2 separate regions of the Homo sapiens genome follow, and region 1 is linked to region 2. Evidence: fine-mapped expression QTL. A gene starts in region 2. The other region holds a variant in brackets. All regions are shown on one strand. Distances are between the middles of the regions.

Region 1 (11,900 bases), 31 kb after region 2:
CGTTGTCACCTCACTTTTATCATCCTCGTTTTACAGAAGAGGAAACTGAGGTTCAGAGAGGTGCCAAAACTTGCCCAAGGCCATCCAACTAGTATGAGGGAGAGCTAGCATTCAAACCCAGGTGGCCTGGGCTCCTTTTCTACCTCTCATCAAGTGCACTGATGCATGGAAATAATGCACGTAGTATCTGCCTCACAGGGGGCTATTGTGTCTGTGCTTGTAAGCATCTTACACAACAGGCATCTACAAAAGCTACTTGCCTTTTCCTATGGACACGGTGCATTATTTTTCTAGCAGTTTTATCTTTCTAAAATAAGCTTTTTAAAAAAATCACAAGAAGCTGAAATAGGACAGAAGAAAATAAAGGGAGATATATAGTAATGTCCCAGATTTTTCTTTCTTTATCATGAAGTCTTTCAGATCCACAAAAGCATCTCAGATTTCTTTGGGTAGGGAGCTGGAATCCTAAAGGCATGCCAGACTTTCCAGAACACTCTCTTACCCTAGATATCCATTGTGACCGCCTCCCTTTCTCTTCACTTTTCCTCTCATCTCTGCCTTCAGGCACATTGTTTTGGCAGGGAAACTTTTCAACTCCCCTGTTGCTTTCTCCCACACATTGATGATCCATTCCAACTGGTGTGTAATGGCAGAAAGAAGGTAGAACTAAGAATACACCAATGTCTATGCAATTGAATTCATGCTGCTTCATGAAAGAATAGCATAAATCTATTTTATGAAACTATTCCCAGTATAGGTTTAGGTGGAAAAAAATCAAGCTGCATTATGGTATGATATCATCATATATATATATATATGTGTGAGTGTGATGTCATATATATGTATATATACATACATATATGTATAATGAGTGGGTATATACTGTTCATAATAGTAACGTAGATTATAATGATAATGCCACAAGCAAAAAAAATTTAAAAAAAGCAAGAATCTATAGTCTTAAGCTTTTTAAGTTTTTGCAATCATTGTTAGTAGGTAAGCTTTCTGCATCTTAGCAGCTGTATGCACCAGGAACATTTTTTCTTTTTATTTGTGGCTTTCCTTCCACTGCTTATATGCCAGCTAGAGAATGTGGACCTTGTATTGCAGGCCTTCTGGAATCACTGTGTTTCCAGGAATTAGAATGTAGTGGTTCAAATTAAACATTGTGTTACACGCAGTGCCCTTGCCAAGGCATTTCCTACCGAATAACAACATTTATTTTATTACTTTTTAGGACCGTTTTTGGAAGGAAGTACTGACAAATCAGAAAATGATGCACCTCCAAAAGGTGTATGGGTCACTGCTTCTCATTGCCCTCAGCTCCTACAGAAAAGGCCGTGGAGACGAAGGCTTTTGGAAACAAGTCTACCAAACACCGAGGAGGTCGCCCTTCCGCAGCACCATCTCCTGGGAGGAGCAGGTGTGATGCCGGGTCTTCCAGCTCAGGCTCCCTCCTCCCCTTCTTTGATCATATTTGTGTTTGCCTTTGCATTTCTCCCTCTTATTTCTCCTCATCTCTCCCTACCCCCCTTACACACATGCAGGTGCACACACACATGCACTTCCCCATCTTCCACGCCCAAAATAAACAGCAGTTTGATGCTCTCTTGTGAATTTATACCTCAGAGGTTACTGGGTGAAAGGCCTTTGGAGCAGAGGCCTATGCCCCCATCCTACTGCTGCTGTTTGCTAACTGTAGGACCTTGTAGTGAATTGCTTAACCTCCCTACACCTCGGTCTCTTCTTCTGTGAAATGGGACTGATAATGGCATCTACCTCCCAGGCTGTGGTGGTGTGTATTTAGTAACATTGTCCATGGAAGAAGCAAAGTATATATCTTCTTCTTTTGAGGGAAGGTCTCGCTGTGTCACCCAGGCTAGAGTGCAGTGGTGCAGTCATGCTCACTACATCCTCGACTTCCTGGGCCCAAGCAACCCTCCCACTTCAGCCTCCTAAGTAGCTGGAAATATAGACACATGCCATCATGTCTTGATAATTAAAAAAAAATTTTTTTTGTAGAGACGCGATTTCCCTATGTTGCCAAGGCAGCTCTTGAACTCCTGGGCTCAAGCAATCCTTCTGACTTGGCCTCCCAAAGTGCTAGAATTACAGGCGTGAGCCACTGTGCCTGGCCCAGAACAGATATTAATGGGTACCCAGACCATGACAATTTCCTTCCCCAGGAGGATGCCAGGACCTAGACCCAGGATGGAGTGGTCAGAGATGTGGAGCTAGGACAGGTCAGGGCCAGCAGGTGGGCTGGAAAAGGGAGGAGATGATCAGGAGAGAGAGGGTCCGCCTGTGGTAATCCCAGTATGTGTGTGATGAGGAGGCAGTATCTGGCTTTCACAGAGAAGTTTTTGAAGAGAGACCTTTGTCCAGAGCTGGAGCTACTTCCAGTGTGGGGCCAAGCTGAAGCCTAAGGTGACCACAGGCCACTGATGACAAGGAGTTTGATTAGAAATGAGGGGGCCGATTGTGGATCCCAACATATAAGACAAGATAACCAATTAAAGAATATTTGAGTAACAGTCTACTAAGTGTCAGCTTTGTATCTGGTACTGTTGGGAGAACAGTGCCTGGCACTTAGTAGGCACTTGTATTTTCCTTGACTGCCCAATAGAAGACATCACGTCCTGAAGACCTACTAAGGGTCAGGGACTGCAATGGATAGTTTACCTATTATGCCTCATTTAACTATTGTCACATTCAACCCAACAGCAGTTTTATCCCCCTCCTTTTTTTTTTTTTGAGATGGAGTCTCGCTCTGTCACCTAGGCTGGAGTGCAGTGGCGCAATCTCGGCTCACAGTAACCTCTGCCTCCTGGGTTCAAGTGATTTTCCTGCCTCAGCCTCCTGAGTAGCTGGGATTACAGGCACCTGCCACCACGCTGGGCTAATTTTTGTATTTTTAGTAAAGATGGGGTTTCACTATGTTGGCCAGGCTGGTCTCCAACTCCTGACCTCGTGATCCGCCCGCCTTGGCCTCCCAAAGTGCTGGGATTACAGGCGTGAGCCAACGCGCCCAGCCTATCCCCATTTTATAAACGAGTGAGCTGAGATTCAGAGAGGCTGTGGAACTTACCTCGGGACTCATAGCCAGTAGGGAGCTGAGCTGGTCTAGTTCCAGCATGTACCCTCTTTCCCTGAAACCATGCTCCCTCCCACCTGTGGCCTGAAGAGCGTCCCTGAAGGATCAGAAGATCTAAGTGGGAAACGCAGCATTCAGAAGGAAAATGAAGACTGCGACGTCTGGGTTTCATAGTGCAGGCGCAGGTGTATGCTGGACCCTCTGCTCTGTGGGATGGGGGAAGAAAGTGCTGTGTGCCACTGCCGGGCGGACGGAACAGAGATTCCTCCTAATTTAGTGCTGGACGGTGACCCAAGAGGCCAAGAACCTCTTGAGACCCTGCTTTGCTTGTCTTATTGAAGGTGAGCCCTTACTCTGCCTACCTTCACGACGCCGTCCTGCTCTATGCTGAGACCGTGAAGCAGGTGGTAAAGGCTGGAGGCGACTTCCAGGATGGGTGGCAGCTGGTCAGCGCTCTGAAGGGTTCCAGTCAGACCACAGTGCAGGGTAGGTGGCTTACTGCTGGAGGGTGTTCTAAACTCAGACCTGCGGCTCCAGTCGGTGGGGGCTTTGAGATCTTGGGCATGTAATTAAAGGCCTCTTTCAGGGCCTGCCTCACACTGAACTCCAGAATTCATCTTTCTTATGGGGATTCCTGTCTTCCTTCTGTAAGTGTAGTTGAGGTTAAGACCTCCCAGCTCCCACAGTTCGCTCATCCTTCTGGCCAGAGCCTGCCCAGACCAGGAGAGGAGGCTGCTGGGCACCTTATCCCCTTTCCCCTGGGAATTCTCCCCCGCAGTTCCATTCAAACTGAGTCCATCAAGAATAAAATTCAGAAATGTGAGACCTGTCTCCCGGGGTCACTTCCCATCTGCAGCCTCTGTGATGGGGGCCCTGGCACCACAGACTTCTGAAGATGGGTTGTAGTCTCATTCTTGCTTTCCTGGTGGGGATGAGTATAGGTTGGGGAGTGAACCGCTTTCAAATCACATTCAGCTGACCAACTGCTTTGATCTTTCTTGTTCTCGTTTTCTCAGTTGTAAGATAGGGATAACACCTGTTACCACATGCAGAAATAATAACCAGCATTTAGGGAGGGCTTACCTTACACTAGGCCAAGTGCTAAGAGCTTCCGAGTATTACCTAATTGAATCCTCACACAGCCCATGAGGCAGGTACTATTTCTATCTGTATTATTCAGGTGAGTAAACTGAGGTTACAGAGGTTATGTACCTTGTCTAAGGTCACAAAGTTATTAGATGGTGGAGCCAGGATTCAAAATCAAGTCTGCCTTCTCCAGGGCTCATGTTCTTTGCTATCCTGTAACATAGGAGTAATGAGAATATGACATGCACCTGGCACATAGTATGTGCTCATTAAATAGTAGGTTCTTTTTTTTTTTCTTTTGAGATAGGGTCTTGCTCTGTCACCCAGGTTGGTCTCATACTCTTGGGCTCAAGAGATCCTCCCGCCTTGGTGTCTCAAAGTGCTGGGATCATAGGTGTGAGCCACTGTGCCTAGCCAAATGGTCACTATTTTTATCCTTGCTTTGGCTTATCTTTTTGGCTTTTGGCTTATAAATTATTACCTAAAATTTGTCTGAAAATTTAAAGACAGCAGCCAAGGCCTGCTCTTTGAAGTTTTCATAGAAGCAGGTCGCGTTTACCCTATTAATGCCTTTTGCAAGTGGAAATATTCACCAACTTCTCTCCTTTCCTTTCAGACCCTAAGGCATTTGCTTAAAAAGGGGAGAGGTCACAAGGGGGGATCCTTCTTTCTGCTCTCAGTTTAATCCCCTCTGCCAGATCAATTAATTCCTCTTTCCTGTGGTTTTAGAAATTCTTCATGCTGGAATGAGGGGAGGTTGTGAAGAGCAGTGAGGCCCTTTAAGAGCCTGAGTCATCCCACTTTGGTTCTGGGACCCGTGGGCCCCTTTCAGGGACTCATGACCAAAGGGCCCTCCTCACCCCTTCCAAACTGGCTTCTGTTCCCTTATGGGCTACAGGACTAGCCTTGGCAGAACTGGAGTATTTGTCTCTGCTTCCTGTGTTCATTTCTGCCACATGGTGGCAACCACTCCATCGGCCAGTGCCGAAGGGCTTTTGCACCATTCCAGAAGGAAAGCCTCTTCTAGGAGGTCGAGTTAGGGAGCAGAATCCCCCAACCCCACTGGCTTTGGCTCAGTGAACGCAATGCACACTGAAAGAAGTGGCCCTGGTTGTCGCAGGAGCTCTGGCCTTTCCCCTGCAAACCTCAGGCTCAATACCCACATTCAGGATGCCCACGGATGTGTAT[G/A]CAGAAAGGCAGTGTGGCATGCTGGAAAGAACATGGCACTTGGGGCCTGATAGGCCTGGGTTTGTGTACCAGCTGTGCCTCTTCGTGGCCCTGGCAGGAAGACCCGAGGAGTTCATGCCTCCAAGCTTTGCTTGTTGGGAGCAGATGATGGTGCCCCTTCTGAAGGGTTAATTAGGATTAGACATGGGAAGTCAACACCACCTGCAGTGCCCAGCACTTATTAGGTGCTTTATCAGTGGTAATTTTGTGTTCTGTCCCCTGTGGGACAAAATCAGCAATAAGTCCTTTGTCAGAACCTACGTACTAGTTTGGGGTGTGAAGGAGCTGTGCTTCCAAGATGCGTTCCTTCAGTAGTGGAGTTAATCACGTTCTAAGAAATAGCAAACAGCACATCAGGCCCTGTAAAGCCTCTGCACCAAGCCTCTGCAAAGGGCCTGCAAGGCCTCTGCACCCAGACCAGGAGGGAAGGGGCTGCCATGAGAACAGAGATTGCAAACTTGTGCCCCAGGGCCTGGCAGCATGGAGGCGTGGGGTGGGTGGGGTCAGGGGAGGAAGATGGGAGGAACTGGAGGAAGCAGCTGTCCCTCGGCCCCAGACGACTGCTGACATGTTGTCACATCTGATTGTTCGAGGGAAGCATAAATCTCAGGTTTTAAGTGAAATTAACTGGAAACAAACTTTTTTTTTTATTTTTAAGTGCTGGATGAGCTTCCCCAGTGTGGGCCTGAGAAAATACATCTGCCTGCCCAGTGTGGCCCTTTAACCCTAACAGGATGCTATCTCTGAACTGTCTTCTTCCCTTTGCTGGTCCCCATTGACCCTGTCTCAGATTCACTGAAATGACAGAAACCCTGTGTCTGGTTTTTAATGGCTGTTGGGGAAGGGGGTTCTGTTGATTTGAGTTGGGGCAGGCTGGCATTTTGAGCCACATGTTGCTGTCCCTCTCCTGACCTTGTGCAATCTCCTGTCTTTCTAGGAATCACAGGCCCTGTGTTTGTGGATGCCCAGGGAGAAAGGCACATGGATTACTCTGTCTATGCCCTGCAGAAGTCTGAAAATGGGCCCCTTTTACTTTCTTTTCTTCATTATGACAGTTATCAAAGTAATCAGATACTGGCCGGACATTTCTGCAAGTGTAGATTGTGCTACAGAAAGAGACATAGGAAGAGGAGGGCCCTGGGAAGGCCAGTTTGGGATCCAGTCCCTAGAATCCCCCAAGTAGCCTGGTGCTCTTAGAACTCATGAAGATAGACTTTGGGCCTTTAAGGTGATTTTATTCCCTTGACTGAGGTTATGGCTTGACCGTTTCAGATTTCAGTGTAGGACAGAGTACCCACGAACTGCACCTCCACCAGGGCCCTGTTCTCCTCTCGTGTTCCAACCAGTGGTCCCATTGGCCATGGTCTAGGGGAGAGGCCCTGGGCCCAGAGCGGGTGGTGGAGCACAGCGTCCCCGAAGGGATGGGTTTACAGGCCCCGAAATGGCTCACCTAGACAGCCTGACTCCCAGACACATTTGGACACCAGCAACCAGAACCCAGGAATCCTGGGGAAAAAACAAAACAAAACTTTGTTTTTGTTCTTTCAGCTACAAATCAATGAGAAAACTAAAAGGAAACCTAAGATGTAATTCAATTTCCACTCACCCCCACTGCCACTACTTCCAATCCAGATTCAACTTGAGGCTTTTTAAATTTTTAGACAGTCTTGCTCTGTTGCCCAGGCTGGAGTACAGTGGCACAATCTGGGCTCACTGCAACCACTGCCTCCCAAGTTCAAGTGATTCTCTTGCCTCAGCCTCCTGAGTAGCTGGTATTACAGGTGCATGCCACTGCACCCAGCTAATTTTTGTATTTTTAGTAGAGACGGGGTTTCACCATGTTGGCCAGGCTTATCTTGAACTCCTCACCTCAGGTGATCCACCCACCTCAGCCTCCCAAAGTGCTGGGATTACAGGTGTAAGCCACCACACCCAGGCAACTTGAGGCTTTTTTCTCCCCTTCTCTTATGGAATTTTAATGGACCAAAATGGGCCAGAAAACAAAGTAACCATGGCAAACTAGGTCTTTAGTATTGTCAGAACAGGCACACTCCACATAGGAGGAGATGTTTTGTTCTGTGAAATGTCAAGCTGCTATATAACAAGATTTGTCTACGTCAAACACAGATGAAAGTCCCAGCAACATTGACTTGGCATGTCATCTTTTAAATCAAAAGAGACATGGTTTAAGTCAAAAGATTGAGGAAGCTATTTCAACAGCAAAAAGATACTGCCTTCCTTGAATGAGATTACCTGAAGGCTGGATTTGAAGAGCCTAGGAGAGTTGGGCAAACTGGACAGAAGTTTGAATTGAGAGACCAAGGCTTGAGTTTTGCAAATAACATGCATTTTTCCGTTGTCTCTGCTGTACATGAGGTAGAGTCAAATAGAACAAACTGAGCTGACGCTGACCTTTATTTTTTTTTTTAAAGACCCACAGGGAATTTCTCCAATATGACCTGGCCGCATGGCTCCCTTCCTGAAGACAGACCTGGCTGTGGATTTTATAATGAGCTCTGTGAAACTCAGTCTGCTTTTACGGGTAAGTATGGCTGTTTGGAGAACGTAGCAGGGAAAGACTTTCTATAGTAGGGTCTCTGTATGGCAGGCAGCACTATTGACATTTTGGGCCAGGTAATTTTTGTGTATGGGGAGGCTGGCATTTCAAGCCATGCATCCCTGTATATTATAAGATGTTTAGCGGCACCCCTGGCCTCTACCCACAGATGCCTATAGCAGCCCTCTAGTCGGAATGAGAAATGTCTCCAGACATGGCCAAATATCCCCTAGGAGGCAACATCACCTTTTTCCCCTGTGGAGAATCACTGCTCTAAGGGAAACTGGCTCCTGAGATTTGAGTCTCAGGAACTTCACCTCTAGGGAGGTTGAAAGAGTCTGGGGAGGGGAGTGTGCCCCAGTGGTTAGGAGCCCAGCCCTGGAATTAGATGGATCATGCCTGGAGAACCACCCTAAGGAGAACACACAGTAAATGTTTTGTAAACACTGCTGGTGGAGTTAGAAGTCATCATTATTATTTCTCTGCAGTGGAACTTTCTATACAAAGCGGGAGGTGAATGCAGTTCCAGTGGGAACTAGGGTGGTAGTCAGGGAAGAATTCCTGGAAGAGACAAGTCAGCGTAGACTTTGTGTGTCCTACCCCAGACCTTCCAGAGGACAGCCTTTGAGGAACCTGCTCGGCTGGGCCCAGCTGGGCAGGGATGTACTTGCTACTGCTCTTGGGCAAGGCCTGGGTAATATGCCTCTACCCTCCAGGCGTGACTGCTGTGCTTCTGACATTGATGATCCTCATTCCTGTCTTGGGAGCTGCCATCATAGGTCTGATTTTAAGGATGCAGAGGCAAAACAAAGACATCTGGTGGCAAATCAATTTTGATGATATCACCATTCTTCCCCAGAACAAGGTGAGGCCATATGTGACCCAGATGTCCCATTTCCTGGTCACTGCTGGAGATGTGTGGAAGGGACCTCATCTAGGAGCTTATAAGAGCAAGAGGCTAATTTATTCAGTGAGCACTTCATGAAGAGTCTGCAGGCCTGAGTTCTGGTTCTAGGCCTCCCACTTGCTTGCTGAATCTGAGAATGTCATTTTACCTCCCCAAGACTCAGTTTCTAAATACTTACAAATGATTGACAGTCTCTAAAGTTCCCTTTGCTCTGTTACTCTGTGGGTGAGAACTGTAGATGGTGTTCAGATATTAAAGCTGTCTCCTGGGGAGGATTTAGTTATTTTATTTTTTGTTTTGTAATTTTTTTGAGATGGAATTTCGCTCTTGTTGCCCAGGCTGGAGTGCAATGGCACGATCTCGGCTCACTCCAATCTCTGCCTCCCGAGTTCAAGTGATTCTCCTGCCTCAGCCTCCCCAGTAGCTGGTATTACAGGTGCCTGCCACCATGCCCAGCTAAGTTTTTCTATTTTTTTTTTAGTAGAGATGGGGTTTCACCATATTGGTCAGGCTGGTCTCGAACTCCTGACCTCAGGTGATCCACTCGCCTCAGCCTCCCAAAGTGCTGGGATTACAGGCATGAGCCATCGCTCCTGGCCGGATTTAGTTATTTTCAAAACCACATTAACTCCTTTAATCAATTGATGACTAATACAATAATGTTCATTTGCTTGACAGGGACTTGACCATTAACTACAGGCCAAGCATCATACAAGGTATGGGGATATCCCACAAATGAGATGCCTCCAGAGGGAGGCAAGTGTCAGAGAGGTGTTTCCACGGTGAGATGGAAGCCTTGCAGATGGAGGGACTGAAGGTCTCAGCATCTGGAAGGCTTTGGAGAGGAGGTGACATTTGAGAAGAGTGAGTTTGCAAGTGATGAAAAAGAGTGAAGTACACAGGATATAATGAGATGTGGGATGGTCAGGGCTGGGAAGCTTAGCTGGTACCAAGTCAGGGAGGCTTCAACATGCTAAGAGCAGGTGACTGTGATTCATTAGTAACTCATCTCCAAACGTCCCCGGGGATTCAGACACTTACTCTTCCATCTTCCACCAAAGCAGCTCTGCTTCGATCTACCTCATTTCTACATTAGGGTTCCAGATAAGATTCTCCTTGAAAACAAGATTCCTATGCTTTGAAGGTGTTTTCTAGGTGTTGGGAGGCACTGAGAGTGTTAAACAGAGACAACTTGGTTAGATGTTCTTTAAGAAAATGGCTCTAACCCCAGGCCACACATCTAATTAAGTGCCACAGCCAGAACTTGAGTCTGGGCAGTCTGACCTCAGAGCCTTCCCTCTTAACCTACACCTCCATGGTGGTACAGATGCCATAGAAGGCATGGATGATTGGATGATGCTGTCCTAGAGTGATGCATGTAACAGGTCAGAAAGATCAGGGTTCAAATCCTGGCTCTCTTATTATTAACTGTCTGACCTTGGCACTCAGCTTCCTCATCTATAAAATGCATTCCCTTTTGTACTTGGCCTTGCTGCTGAGAGTGACCAAATTACTTCCTGTTTTACAGCCATCCCAGAGAGCCACACCTGTGTCAAAAGGCATCAACAGTAACTCATCTAGTGTGATGATTTCTGTGGACCTCAGCTCTTTTGTCAAGAGCCAGCAGTGGGAAGAGCTCTTCTATGCCGCAGTAGGGCTTTATCAGGTATTTCTGAGGCCAGGTGGCTGCCCGTAGATCTTAGTGTATCTCTGTTCTGTTCTCTGCATCGTTTCTGCCAGGCAGGGCATTCTGAATAGAAGAACATTCTGCTAGCAAAAGCCAAGGTGGTCTTGTGACTCCATACTAGTGCTTCCCAAACCTTAATGTGCAGATGGATCACCTGGGACTCTTATTAAAATGCAGATTCTGGGTCAGTAGGTCTGGTGTGGCACCTGAGATTCTGCATTTTAAATAATCTCCTGGCCGGGCATGGTGGCTCACGCCTGTAATCCCAGAACTTCGGGAGGCCAAGGCGGGCGGATCACGAGGTCAGGAGATCGAGACCATCCTGGCTAACACGGTGAAACCCCGTCTCTACTAAAAATACAAAAAATTAGCTGGGCTTGGTGGTGGGTGCCTGTAGTCCCAGCTACTTAGGAGGCTGAGGCAGGAGAATGGTGTGAACCCGGGAGGCAGAGCTTGCAGTGAGCCGAGATCACGCCACTACACTCCAGTCTGGGCGACAGAGCGAGGCTCCATATAAAAAAAAAAATCTTCTAGGTGATTCCCAAGCTGGCTTCTAGATTATACTTAGCTTTGTCCAAAATAACCTTCTGTGATGATGGAAATGTCGCGGATCTGCACTGTCCAATATGGTGGCCACTAGCCTCCTGTGACTACTGAACATTAGTGTGCCTGGGCAACTGAATTTTAAATTTTATTTAATTTTAATTAATTTAAATTTAAATAGCCTTATGTGACTGGTGGCTCCCTTAAAGGACAGTGGAGTCCTAGAGTGTGGATTATTTCATCCTTGCTACTTTGGCATGGATGAATCAGTTGTGGGGCCTGGTGCTTCTGCAGTGTAGACAGTGACTGCTGCTGCAGCTTAGAACGTAATTTCCACTTGTCCTTTCTCACCTTCCCTCCCACACCCAGACCATGATCGCTGTCTGCATTTAGCAATCCTTCCAAAATTCAAGTCCCCTTGGGGTAAGAGTATATACAAAATTGTATTTATTCTTTAAAATGGGGGTCCCAGAGAGTAAAGACAGAAAGCTCCGAGCAAGGGAAGAATTGTTTATTGCTCTAAATTGGGGTTAGAAAAGACTAGAGCCAAATTATCCCCTATGCATTGAAACTTGATTTTTTAAATGTTTGCTTACTTGAGTTCTCAAACTACAAAAACCTCCTGGGATATTACTAAATACCTTAGGGACCACCATCCATACAAAACTCTACGTGGTCGTCACCCAGCCACATAAAGAAGGAAGTAGCAACACATAGCATATCGCTGTTTGATTGATCTTCCAAAAATATGTCTCCTCTCCTCTCTGTGAAACACCATCACTGGATTCCCCACCTCTGT
Region 2 (11,900 bases):
ATGACAATTCTACCAATCAAGCTGATGTCTAGTAAGATCTCAACTATGATTCCAACCAGTGGGCCTGCCACCAAACCATCTTTCTCAACTGTTGTCTGTGTCTCTCTATCTACTTTCTTCACGGAGAGACCAATCATCTCATTAGGTTGGATGGAGCCAAATGGAAGTGGAGAAGGGGAATGGCCAGATGTGCTAGAGGCACTAAAGTGGGACAAGTGGGACATTTAGGGGAGGGAAATGGTGAAGAGGTATTTCTGCTGGAGGTGGAGGGTCCATCTTTAGTTAAAAGGTTGGGGGGCGGGGGGTGGCAGGGGGAAGAAAAAGTCTCCAAGGATGAATGAGATGGTGTGTGGGGCCCAGTGTAGACACTGCACCTCTGGAGCCATTGCCTTCACATACTCCAGAGAGCCTGGGTGGGGCCAGACATTGGCCAGTTGAGCTGAGTAGCATTTATCAGGAGATCTCATGTTAAGTCAAATACCAAGAGCCTCTTAAGTCAGTCCATTAAGATAGCATAGGATAGTTGAGTCACCCACAGGATGTGACCCCAGAAGTGACAAATCCCACAGGAGCTCAGGTCGATAGAGTCAACCTTGATCCACCACTGGGCTTCAAGTGAGTCACAGTCCAAATCCCGACCCCGGGACAACTTGTGTCAGTAACACCCCCAAAGGGCATCCCAGGCCTGCTGCTGACCAAGTATATTATGACAGAACTGGGGTAAGAAGAAGCAGTGTCAGAAGTCCACTGGATCTGATAAGGGGGTCTGTAAAAAGATAGGCCGGACAAAGTGCTAGGACCCTGTCACCTGTGCCAGGGTGAGGCAAGAGGTTGGGAAAGCAGACTTCTTGCCTTAGTTTTCTGCAGAATCAGCCCTTGCACTGCCTGTCCCAACCAGTGGTCAAGGGTCAACAGTTTCAAAGTGCAGGCAACAAGCTTTCTTGTCAACGGTGTCATTGCCAGGGGCAAACTTTCAAGGTCGTGCCCTTCCAGGTACCAGAGCAACAGCTCCTCACTTACTACATGTGTAGCCCTGGGGACAGTTACTTAGAGTCACTGAGCATCAGTTCCCCGCCACTGTACACAGAAGGAGCAGGTGAAAATCGCTACTTAAAGGAGATGCTGTGTGTAGAACAGTTGGTATGCTGTCAGGCACATGGGAAGTCCTCAATCAAATCTAGCTCCCCTTTCCTTCCCTTTTCCTCAGTTTTCACATCCTTGCCAATATCAGATGTTCTATTACGAGATGTCCCAAAAGAAAAGAGATGACCACGGTCTTGAACGATTACTGCCCCTCCACTTCTGTGCAAAGGTTTTAACAAGCCCTCATCTCTTTTTTTTTTTTTTCTTTTTTTTGAGATGGAGTTTCACTCTTGTCACCCAGGCTGGAGTGCAGTGGCGAGATCTCAGCTCACTGCAACCTCCGCCTCCTGGGTTCAAGCGATTCTCCTGCCTCAGCCTCCCGAGTAGCTGGGATTACAGGCAGCTGCCACCACGCCCAGCTAGCTTTTGTATTTTTAGCAGAGATGGGGTTTCACCATGTTGGCCAGGCTGGTCTCAAACTCCTGATTTCAAGTGATCTGCCTGCCTCGGCCTCCCAAAGTGTTGGGATTACTGGCATGAGCCACTGCGCCCGGCCAACAAGCCCTCATTTCTATTTAAACAGAGCACTTCTAGTTGTAGGGAACCATGGCCTGTCTCTGACCTAGCTTTACCCCAGACCTCAAATCCTCAACTTGAGCCACTCGCAACCTCACAACTCTTAGAATAGAATGGCCCATGAAGACTGGGAGATCCACCAGCTTCCCCAAAGAAGGCTAATAGTGTGGCCTGACCACAGCATTGCACGGGCTGTCTGACCTTCCAAACTCCAGATCTCATGTATTTATTCAAACAATGAGTTGAGAACCTAGGAAGTGTCAGGCCCTGCGCCAGGGAGGACAAGTTGGTGAGAGAGTCCCTTTCCGACCTCAGGATGTACAGACATAGAGGGGAGAAATAGACCCAGATGCATTTCCAGCAGAATGTGATAAGCAGTGATGGCTGGACTCATGGCTGCTGGGGTTACGTCACCCTTGCTTGATGCTGCCAGGCACAAGAGTCACCTCTGACTGCACTCCAGCTGAGGGTCTGCTCATCTGCTGAGGAGGCATATGAGAGACAGACAGGAGCAGACACTGTATTCCTGGTTTCTAAGAAGCTGGCAAATCCTATAGGCCAGGTGCAGTGGCTCACACCTGTAATCCCAGCACTTTGGGAGGCCTAGGCAGGCAGATAACTTGAGGTCAGGAGTTTGAGACCAGCCTGGCCAATATGGTGAAACCCTGTCTCTACTAAAAGTACAAAAATTATTTGGGCATGGTGGTGCATGCCTGTAATCCCAGCTACTCAGGAGGCTGAGGCAGGAGAATTGCTTGAACTGGGGAGGCAGAGGTTGCAGTGAGCCAAGATGTTGCCACTGCACTCAAGCCTGGGAGTCTAGGTGACAGAGTGAGGCTCCTCCAAAAAAAAAAAAAAAAAAAAAAAAAAAAAAACAAGAAGAAGAAGATTGTCTTGATTAAATATAAGAGTACCTACTGTGTACTGGTACTTCCCTGGCTTCATCTTCCCTCTCTCCATTCATTTCTCTCTCCTTCCTCCATCTCCAGCCTCCATGTAGTATCTGTGGTCTCACTATAGGTGGATGGTTAGGTATGCAATGACACGCTGATGTTGTTGTTGGTGTCTTTGCCCTCAAAAAATTACAATATAGCCTGGGAGAGACTATTTTAGGTCAGGCTAGGCTGAAATATTCTGTTTGGTCTGGATTAAAAAGTGTTTTCTCTTTTTTAATAATTAAATTTGAATGCATTTATCTGGGGTATGCCTGCTCTGAATTTTGCTAAAGTTTCCACCATTAGCATCTTATTACACACCATCTACTTTACTTCTCTATATTACTTGCCTGTCCTATAAGCATTTGCACTTACACTTCTTGTTTTATTTAGGTTTTTGTTCCTTTTATTATGCCAAATACACAAAAGATGGCTATAAAATTTTACACCATGCCTCTTTCAAGACATGTTCTGTGTTTAACCTTGAATACTGATCAATCGGAGGGGACTACCACAGAGTGACTCCATATCAGAATATGAAGGGAGAAATAAACAAAACCAATTACTCCTTTTTTAAAAGAAAACTAAGTCAGTTTTCAATGTTTTTTTATTTGTTTGTTTGTGTGTTGTTTTTGAGCCAGAGTCTTGCTCTGTCATCCAAACTGGAGTGCAGTGGTGCCATCTCGGCTCACTGCAACCTCCGCCTCCTAGGTTCAAGCAATTGTCCTGCCTCCTGAGTTGCTGGGATTACAGGCGTACGCCACCACGCCAAGCTAATTTTTGTATTTTCAGTAGAGATGGGGTTTCGCCATGTTGGCCAGGCTGGTTTCTAACTCCTGACTTCAGGTGATCCACCCACCTCAGACTCCCAGAGTTCTGGGATTACAGGTGTGAGTCACTGCGCCCGGCCTTAACTTTATTTTTTAAGACTCTGCCTCTGATATAGAATACTAATCACCTACACATTGGAGCTATAGATTCAATTCTACCTTTCAGACCACCAAAAAAAGGCTGATATCTCAGAAGGTACCAAGCCCCGGTGGTAGAGTCCCTTTCCAGTGCTTATTCCCTGAGGGTCTCCGGTGGTAGAGTCCCTTTCCAGTGCTTATTCCCTGAGGGTCTCCGGTGGTAGAGTCCCTTTCCAGTGCTTATTCCCTGAGGGTCTCCAGTGGTAGAGTCCCTTTCCAGTGCTTACTCCCTGAGGGTCTTTGAGATTCACCTTAGGACCCTCAGGGAGTGGGCATTGGGAAGGAAGTACTTAGGAATTAAGCAGCACCTGAGACTTAACCTGTGGCCTTACTTCCTAAAATACACTCAGCTCCATTCATCTGTCTCTCCCACCCCATTGGTCTCATTCATCAGTCTTACCCAACATAAAATTGAGGGCAAACCCCCAGCCCACCTCAGGGGAGCTATGCTGGATGCTCAGACCCACAAAAAGAGGTCTCTGTTTTGGTTCACCTTCCCCAAGAGAGTCGAGAGAAGGAAAGTGAGCCCCATGCATGCCCCACATCCTTCCTTCCCGTTGCTCCTCCTGACACAGGGTCTGAAGGCATGACCGAGACCAGGAGGGAGACAGCATGATGTGCCCGTGGAACTCAGCCGGCCCTTGATTCTAAGTCGCTTAAAGAAAGTCGGGGGTCAGGATGCCCCCTTGGCCTCTGTCACACCCTCACAAGACCCCCTTGCTGAATAACACCCCCTCGATGGTCCCCTTACCCTGCGAGGGGGCCGCATCTCTCAGTGCTTCTAGTGAATGGGGGCTTCCCGGCTCTGAGTTCTTCCTGCCACACGAGTCCCTGTCCTTCTTCCCTCGCTCGTGGTTCCTCCAGAGACAGGGTGGCTTCAGAGCGTCCATGCAGGCAGAAGGCCGGCCCAGAGTGTCCCCAGTTCTGCCCTGCTCTGAGCTGTCCCGAGTCAGGCCATGTCAGGCTTTCTAACGTGCTCGGGGACTTCACTTCCTGGTTTTAATTTTTTTTTTCACAACTGAAAGTGGAAGTGTTCTGACCAGGAGGGGAGAAGCTGCCAAAGCTACCCTGGCTCCGTGTCAAAGCCTTTCACCTCAGCCCCTAAGGGCCGACACAAAAGCCAGCTTGCCTCAACACAGTTGACCCTGCCCTCCTGTGGCCTATCATCTTTCAACTAAGATGAAAACAAACAAACTAAAATGACTTGAGGTGCCCCCTCAGATCAGAAGCCTCACAGAGGCAGAGGTGACGCTGTTCCCTGCTGGATTCGGAGGACAGGAAAGTCTGGCTAGAGGGTACCTCAGCCCTCAGACCCACACAAACACCTTCTACCCCGCCTCTCTCCAGTCGCCAGAGCTGCCTGCCTTGGTCTCTGAAGAAGTTCTGGCAAAGCCAAGAAAATAAGCAAGTCAGGAACGACAGGGCTGTGAGTCGTTCAATTGGCATGGTTTCTTTCCCTCTGATACAGTCACACCTCAAAACTTAACTTAAAAATCGATTCTTTCGCCTTGGTCACCCCCAGTATTACCAGGACCTGTATTAGTCTCATTTTTGATCCGCCTAAGGCTGTGGCTACAGGGGGGCCCTGGAGCTACCATTCTCAGATTAGGAAGCCGAAATGACAAATTTTCCTGCCCCTTCCCCACCTCACAGATACCTCAGAATGAAGCAGCACTTTCTCCAGCCTCGATCCCCCACGAAGGCTCACAGGAAGTTCAGCATGATCCTGGCTCTTTGCTGGAGCTAGATTAGGGTTTGTTCTTTCTACAGAGCAGTTCTTAAAAGCTTCCTACTAAGGAAGCCAGGGTGAGCTGTGCCACAGTCTCAGAGAACACAAGAGCTGAGCCCTTGGCCTCTGGGGAGCCGCCTTTGGACATGGAAGAAAGATGAAGGGCTGGGAGACGAAGTGGGGCCTGTGGCATTCCATCCTCTGGCTCATCTCACGGCTGGAGGAGCACTTGTCATTTGCTTAGTTTCAGGAACTCAGCTCCCCAAGAGGCAACTTCCTCTAGAGGAGAGCAGAGGATGGCAGAGTGGGTGTCGAATCTCAGCCACACTAATACCTCTGAGCCCTTCACCGGGTGCTGTCTTCCTTCACCAAAGGGCTCAGGGCCAGGGGAAGATGAGGTTTTATTTCTTTTTTTTTTATTGACCTCCTCCAGTAAAAATGCTCAAGTTCAGGAAGGTTGAGTCATTCTAAAGGCCCATCAGAGTTGTATTCCTATCAATCCTCTGTGCACATGAGTGACACCCTCAGGATTTCAGGGGGTAACTGAAAGCTTTGGCAACCCACAACAATTCTGCATTATTGGGCAGGCTGTGGAAACTGACCAATCAAGTCTCAAATTCTAGCCACACCACCTTGGAGCTATGTAGCTTAGGCCATGCTGTTTAACAGCCTGGAGACGCACTATGCCTCTGTGAAATGGGAAGGATACCACCTGCTTTATAGGATGAGATACACCAATGAAGTAACATACATAATCTACCCAGAACAGTCCCCAGCACCTAATCGAATATCTGCTGATTCCCTTCCTCTCTGTCTGCCAAATGGGACTCTCTGCCCTCAGCAGCTGACGCACGATCCTTCTAACTACACTGAGACAGAAATTTCTTAATGGAAGATGAAGGAGACCCACATTCTGGCTTGGTGTGCTTTAGTACACTTACCAAAATCAGTGTTCCCTTCCAATTCCATCCCCTGCTAGCATTTGGATAGCTCATATATCTCCACCCCTTTTCCAACTGATTTTTTTCTTTGCCTCCCACACAAGTCAGCTGAGATTACTATTCAACTAAATGTAATTTCATGTTATTAAAGAGCCTTAGGTTGAGCATAACAAATCCCACTTTCTTTCCCCACACCAATCCCCTCCCTACTATCTCACAGATATATTCAATATAGTGCAGGTAGTATCATTGCAGCTTACCTTGGAAGAAGACTCTCCCTTCCTGGGTCCAGGAAGTGCTCCCCTCACAGCTGGCTGTATTGATTCAGCACCACATTCAGGCACTTCTACTCTTTCCACAGCTCCTAGGACTGACTGGGACACACCCGAAGCTACTGTGTACTGTCCTGAGAGTGGCCAACACACTCCCCTGGAACCTTTGAATCTGTCACAACAGAAGTTCAAAGGTAGAAGTTACCTGTTCAAACACTTGTAGTAACCTCTGACAGTAAGAAAAGCAGTGTTGGGCAAAAGATTAAAACAAGAGATTGTTATGCAATGGGCTTAAGCGGGAAAAAAAAAAAAGACGGCCCTTAGTTCAGAAAGCTAACGTTTACCAAGAGAAACCTTCGATAAAGCTCTACCTCAGGGGAAGGAGAAGGGGTAGACAGGGCTTTGCATCTGCTTTGGGGGCACAATCCTTGAGACTGTGATAGGAAGAGGAAGGTCTAGATTACTAGAAGAAAAAGGGCTCCTTGAGATCAGAGTGAGAGAAAAATGAGAAGCCACTTTAATTGGCTCAAGCTATAACTTTAGGATTCAGACTAAGCAGAGGTGTGCATTTGCAGACCAGCTATCTTCTAGAAGGGACCACTGCCCCCTTCAGAATTAGAACGTCTCCAAGACAACCAAATGAGCCAAATCAGTCTAGAGTCTAGGCTGAGAGACAAGCCTAGGACGGTTGTTTTTAGGATTCGGAATCACGAACACAGTCTGCAGCACACATAGTTTAGCAAGGCGCTAGAATAGGAAGCATTGCTTCCTGGCTAACACGGTGAAACCCCGTCTCTACTGAATACACAAAAAATTAGCCGGGCGTGGTGGTGGGCCCCTGTAGTCCCAGCTACTTGGGAGGCTGAGGCAGGAGAATGGTGTGAACCCGGGAGGTGGAGCTTGCAGTGAGCCAAGATCGCGCCACTGCACTCCAGCCTGGGCGACACAGCGAGACTCTGTCTCAAAAAAAAAAAAAAAAAAAGAAGCATTGCTACTGCGTCATGGCTCAGCCATCCTACTCTCTCCTTTTTTTTTTTTTTTTTTTTTTTTGAGACGGAGTCTCACCGCAACCTCCACTTCCTGAGTTCAAGCAATTCTCCTGCCTCAGCCTCTGGAGTGGCTGGGATTACAGGCATGCACCACAATGCCTGGCTAATTTTTTTTTTTTTTTTTGTATTTTTAGCAGAGACAGGGTTTCACCATGTTGGCCAGGCTGGTCTCGAACTCCTGACTTCAAGTGATCTGCCTGCCTCGGCCTCCCGAAGTGCTGGGATTATAGGCATGAGCCACCATGCCCAGCCTCTCTTTCCACTTTGAAGTTCTCTAGTCACCATTCTTGATTCCAAGATCATTAGGACTGCAAGGCATCATTACTAAACAAAAACAGTGGGTAGAAATGAAAGAAACCCTGGAGATGATGTGCAAACTTACTGTATAGGTGAGGCCAGTGAGGCCTTTTCAGGTGAAAGAAGGCTTCTGGAATCACACAACCAGTCGGTCAAGACAGCACCTGACTCAGAGTCATGAGAACCCCTGCAGTGCCTTGGCCCCTATGCTGCCCCATTGATCTGTGTATGTTTAGCTACCAGAATGAAGCCGCGGACCCTCGCAGTGAGTGTTACAGTTCTTAAAGGCGGTGTGTCTAGAGTTTGTTCCTTCTGATGTTCAGATGTGTTCAGAGTTTCTTCCTTCTGGTGGGTTTGTGGTCTTGCTGGCTCAGGAGTAAAGCTACAGACCTTTGCAGTGAGCATTACAGCTCATAAAAGCAGCGTAGACCCAAAGAGTGAGCAGTAGCAAGATTTATTGCAAAGAGCTAAAGAACAAACCTTCCACAGTGTGAAAAGAACCCCAGGTGGTTGCCACTCCGGGCTCGGACAGCCTGCTTTTATTCTTTTATCTGGCCCCACCCACATCCTACTGATTGGTCCATTTTACAGAGAGCCGATTGGTCTGTTTTACAGAGAGCTGATTGGTCCGTTTTGACAGGGTGCTGATTGGTGTGTTTACAATCCCTGAGCTAGACACAAAAGTTCGCCATGTCCCCACTAGATTAGCTAGATACAGAGTGTTGACACAAAAGTTTTCCATGTCCCCACTAGATTAGCTAGATCCAGAGTGTCGATTGGTGCATTCACAAACCCTGAGCTAGACCAGGGTGCTGAATGGTTTACAAACCTTGAGCTAGACACAGAGTGCCAATTGGTGTATTTACAATCCCTTAGCTAGACATAAAGGTTACCCAAGTCCCTACCAGAGTAGCTAGATACAGAGTGTCAATTGGTGCATTCACAAACCCTGAGCTAGACACGGGGGGCTGATTGGTGTGTTTACAAACCTTGAGCTAGATACAGAGTGCCCATTGGTGTATTTACAATCCCTTAGCTAGACATAAAGGTTCTCCAAGTCCCCACCAGAGTAGCTAGATACAGAGTGTCCATTGGTGCATTCACAAACCCTGAGCTAGACACAGGGTGCTGATTGGTGTGTTTCCAAACCTTGAGCCAAATACTGAGTGCCGATTGGTGTATTTATAATCCCTTAGCTAGACATAAAGGTTCTCCAAGTCCCCACCAGACTCAGGAGGCCAGCTGGCTTCACCCAGTCGATCCCGCACCGTGGCCACAGGTGGAGCTGGCTGCCAGTCCCACACCGTGTGCCCACACTCCTCAGCCTTTGTGTGTCTGGAATTGGTGGGTTCTTGGTCTCACTGACTTCAAGAATGAAGCTGCACACCCTGGCGGTGAGTGTTACAGTTCTTAAAGGCAGCGTGTCCGGAGTTTGTTCCTTCTGATGTTCGGATGTGTTTGGAGTTTCTTCCTTCTGGTGGGTTCGTGATCTCACTGGCTCAGGAGTGAAGCTGTGGACCTTCGCGGTGAGTGTTACAGCCCTTAAGGTGGGGCGTCTGGAGTTGTTTGTTCCTCCCGGTGGGTTCGTGGTCTTGTTGGCTTCAGGAGTGAAGCTGCAGACCTTCGTGGTGAGTGTTACAGCTCATAAAGGCAGTGTAGACCCAAAGAGTGAGCAGTAGCAAGATTTATTGCAAAGAGCGAAAGAACAAAGCTTCCACAGCATGGAAGGGAACCCCAGCAGGTTGCCACTGCTGGCTGGGGCAGCCTGCTTTTATTTCCTTATCTGGCCCCACCCACATCCTGCTGATTGGTCCATTTTACAGAGAGCTGAGTGGTCTGTTTTAACAGGGTGCTGATTGGTGTGTTTACAATCCCTGAGCTAGACACAAAGGTTCTCCACGTCCCCACTAGATTAGCTAGATACAGAGTGTGGACACAAAGGTTCTCCAAGTACCCACTAGAGTAGCTAGATACAGAGTGTCCATTGGTGCATTCACAAACCCTGAGCTAGACACAGGGTGCTGATTGGCGTGTTTACAAACCTTGAGCTAGATACACCGTGCCGATTGGTGTATTTACAATCCCTTAGCTAGACATAAAGGTTCTCCAAGTCCCCAGCAGTCAGGAGCCCAGCTGGCTTCACCCAGTGGATCCAGCACTGGGTCACAGGTGAAGCTGCCTGCCAGTCCCGCGCCATGAGCCGGCACTCCTCAGCCCTTGGGGTGGTTGATGGGACTGGGCGCAGTGGAGCAGGGGCCGGTGCTTGTCGGGGAGGCTCCGGCCACACAGGAGCCCACGGAGGGTGGGGGAGGTTCAGGCATGGCGGGCTGCAGGTCCTGAGCCCTGCCCCGCCGGGAGGCAGCTAAGGCCTGGCAAAAAATCCAGCACAGCACTGGTGGGCCGGCACTGGTGGGCCGGCACTGCTGGGGGACCCAGCACACCCTCTGCAGCCGCTGGCCGGGGTGCTAAGCCCCTCATTGCCTGGGGCCGGCAGGGCCAGCCGGCCGCTCTGAGTGCAGGGCCCGCGGAGCCCACACCCACCCGGAACTCGGGCTGGCCCGCAAGCACCATGCGCAGCCCCGGTTCCGCCCACGCCTCTCCCTCCACACCTCCCCACAAGCTGAGGGAGCGGGCTCAGGCCTCAGCCAGCCCAGGAAGGGGTTCCCACAGTGCAGCAGTGGGCTGAAGGGCCCCTCAAGTGCTGCCAAAGTGGGAGCCCAGGCAGAGGAGGTGCCCAGAGCGAGCGAGGGCTGTGAGGGCTGCCAGCATGCTGTCACCTCTCACTTGGAAGGTCGATGGGAAGGGGCAACGTGGAGCAGGGGGCGGTGCTCGTCGGGGAGGCTCTGGCTGTGCAGGAGCCCATGGCTGGTGGGGTTGGGTGGGGGAAGGCTCAAGCATGGCAGGCTGCAGGTCCCGAACCCTGCCCCACAGGGAGGCAGCAGCTAAGGCCCAGCGAGAAGTCAAGCACAGCAGCTGCTGGCCCAGGTGCTAAGCCTCTCACTGCCGGGGGCCAGCGGGGCAGGCCTGCTGGTCTGAGTGCGGGGCCTGCCGAGCCCACGCCCACCCGGAACTCTCGCTGGCCCACAAGCCCCGCGTACAGCCCCGGTTCCTGCCCGCGCCTCTCCCTCCACACCTCCCCGCAAGCTGAGGGAGCCGGCTCCAGCCTCAGCCAGCCCAGGCAGGGGCTCCCACAGTGCAGCACGGGCTGAAGGGCTCCTCAAGTGCCGCCAAAGTGGGAGCCAAGGCAGAGGAGGCGCCAAGAGCAAGCAAGGGCTGTGAGGGCTGCCAGCACGCTGTCACCTCTCACTTACTGTATTTGGTCAGGTGACCAATACCAAAATCAGAAGCTAATACCACTTCCTGTTGACTCTTGTGTGGAGGAGAGACTAGCATATTAACATAGAAGTCTTCTTAGGTCAGATTCTCATGTGCATTAACTTTTTTTTTTTTTTTTTTTGAGACGGAGTCTCACTCTGTTGCCCAGGCTGGAGTGCAGCAGGTCTGTCTTGGCTCACTGCAACCTCTGCCTCCTGGGGTTCAAGACATTCTCTTGCCTCAATCTCCGGAGTAGCCAGGACTACAGATGTGTGCCACCACACCTGGTTGATTTTTGTATTTTAGTAGAGATGGGGTTTCACCATGTTGGCCAGGCTAGTCTTGAACTCCTTACCTCAAGTGATCTGCCTGCCTCGGCCTTCCAAAGTGCCAGGATTACAGGTGTGAGCCACTGTGCCTGGCCGTTTTTTTTTTTTTTTTTTTTTTTTAAGACAGGGTCTCACTCCTGTCACTCAGGCAGTAGCAACATCATGGCTCACTGCAGCCTTGACTTCTTGGGCTCAGGTAATCCTCCCACCTTAGGCTCCTGAGCACTGGGACTACAGGTCAGTGCCACCACACCATTTAGGTAACGGTCCGTCCTCTCTCCAGCCACCTACGTTTGCTGAGCCACAGAGGCCTGGATTCTTCAAAACACAGGATTTTTCTTTTTTTGACATAGGGTCTTCCTCTGTCACCCAGGCTAAGTGCAGTGGTGCAATCTCGGCTCACTGC

What was found.
Region 1: its variant is fine-mapped to the expression of ACSL5 in whole blood (TOPMed, PIP above 0.99).

What each region holds. Positions count from the first base shown.
Region 1 is chr10:112,337,686-112,349,585 of GRCh38, reverse strand. It overlaps the pseudogene GUCY2GP. Among named protein-coding and RNA genes, the nearest start is that of ACSL5, 30 kb to the left of the region's middle. The variant G/A (reference allele first, on the strand shown) is at 5,369.
Region 2 is chr10:112,368,862-112,380,761 of GRCh38, reverse strand. ACSL5 (acyl-CoA synthetase long chain family member 5) reads right to left here and starts at 6,646. Exons shown (of 21, transcript NM_203379.2): 1 at 6,493-6,646. RefSeq lists enhancers at 3,913-4,413, 4,436-4,655, 4,414-4,914, 4,796-4,945.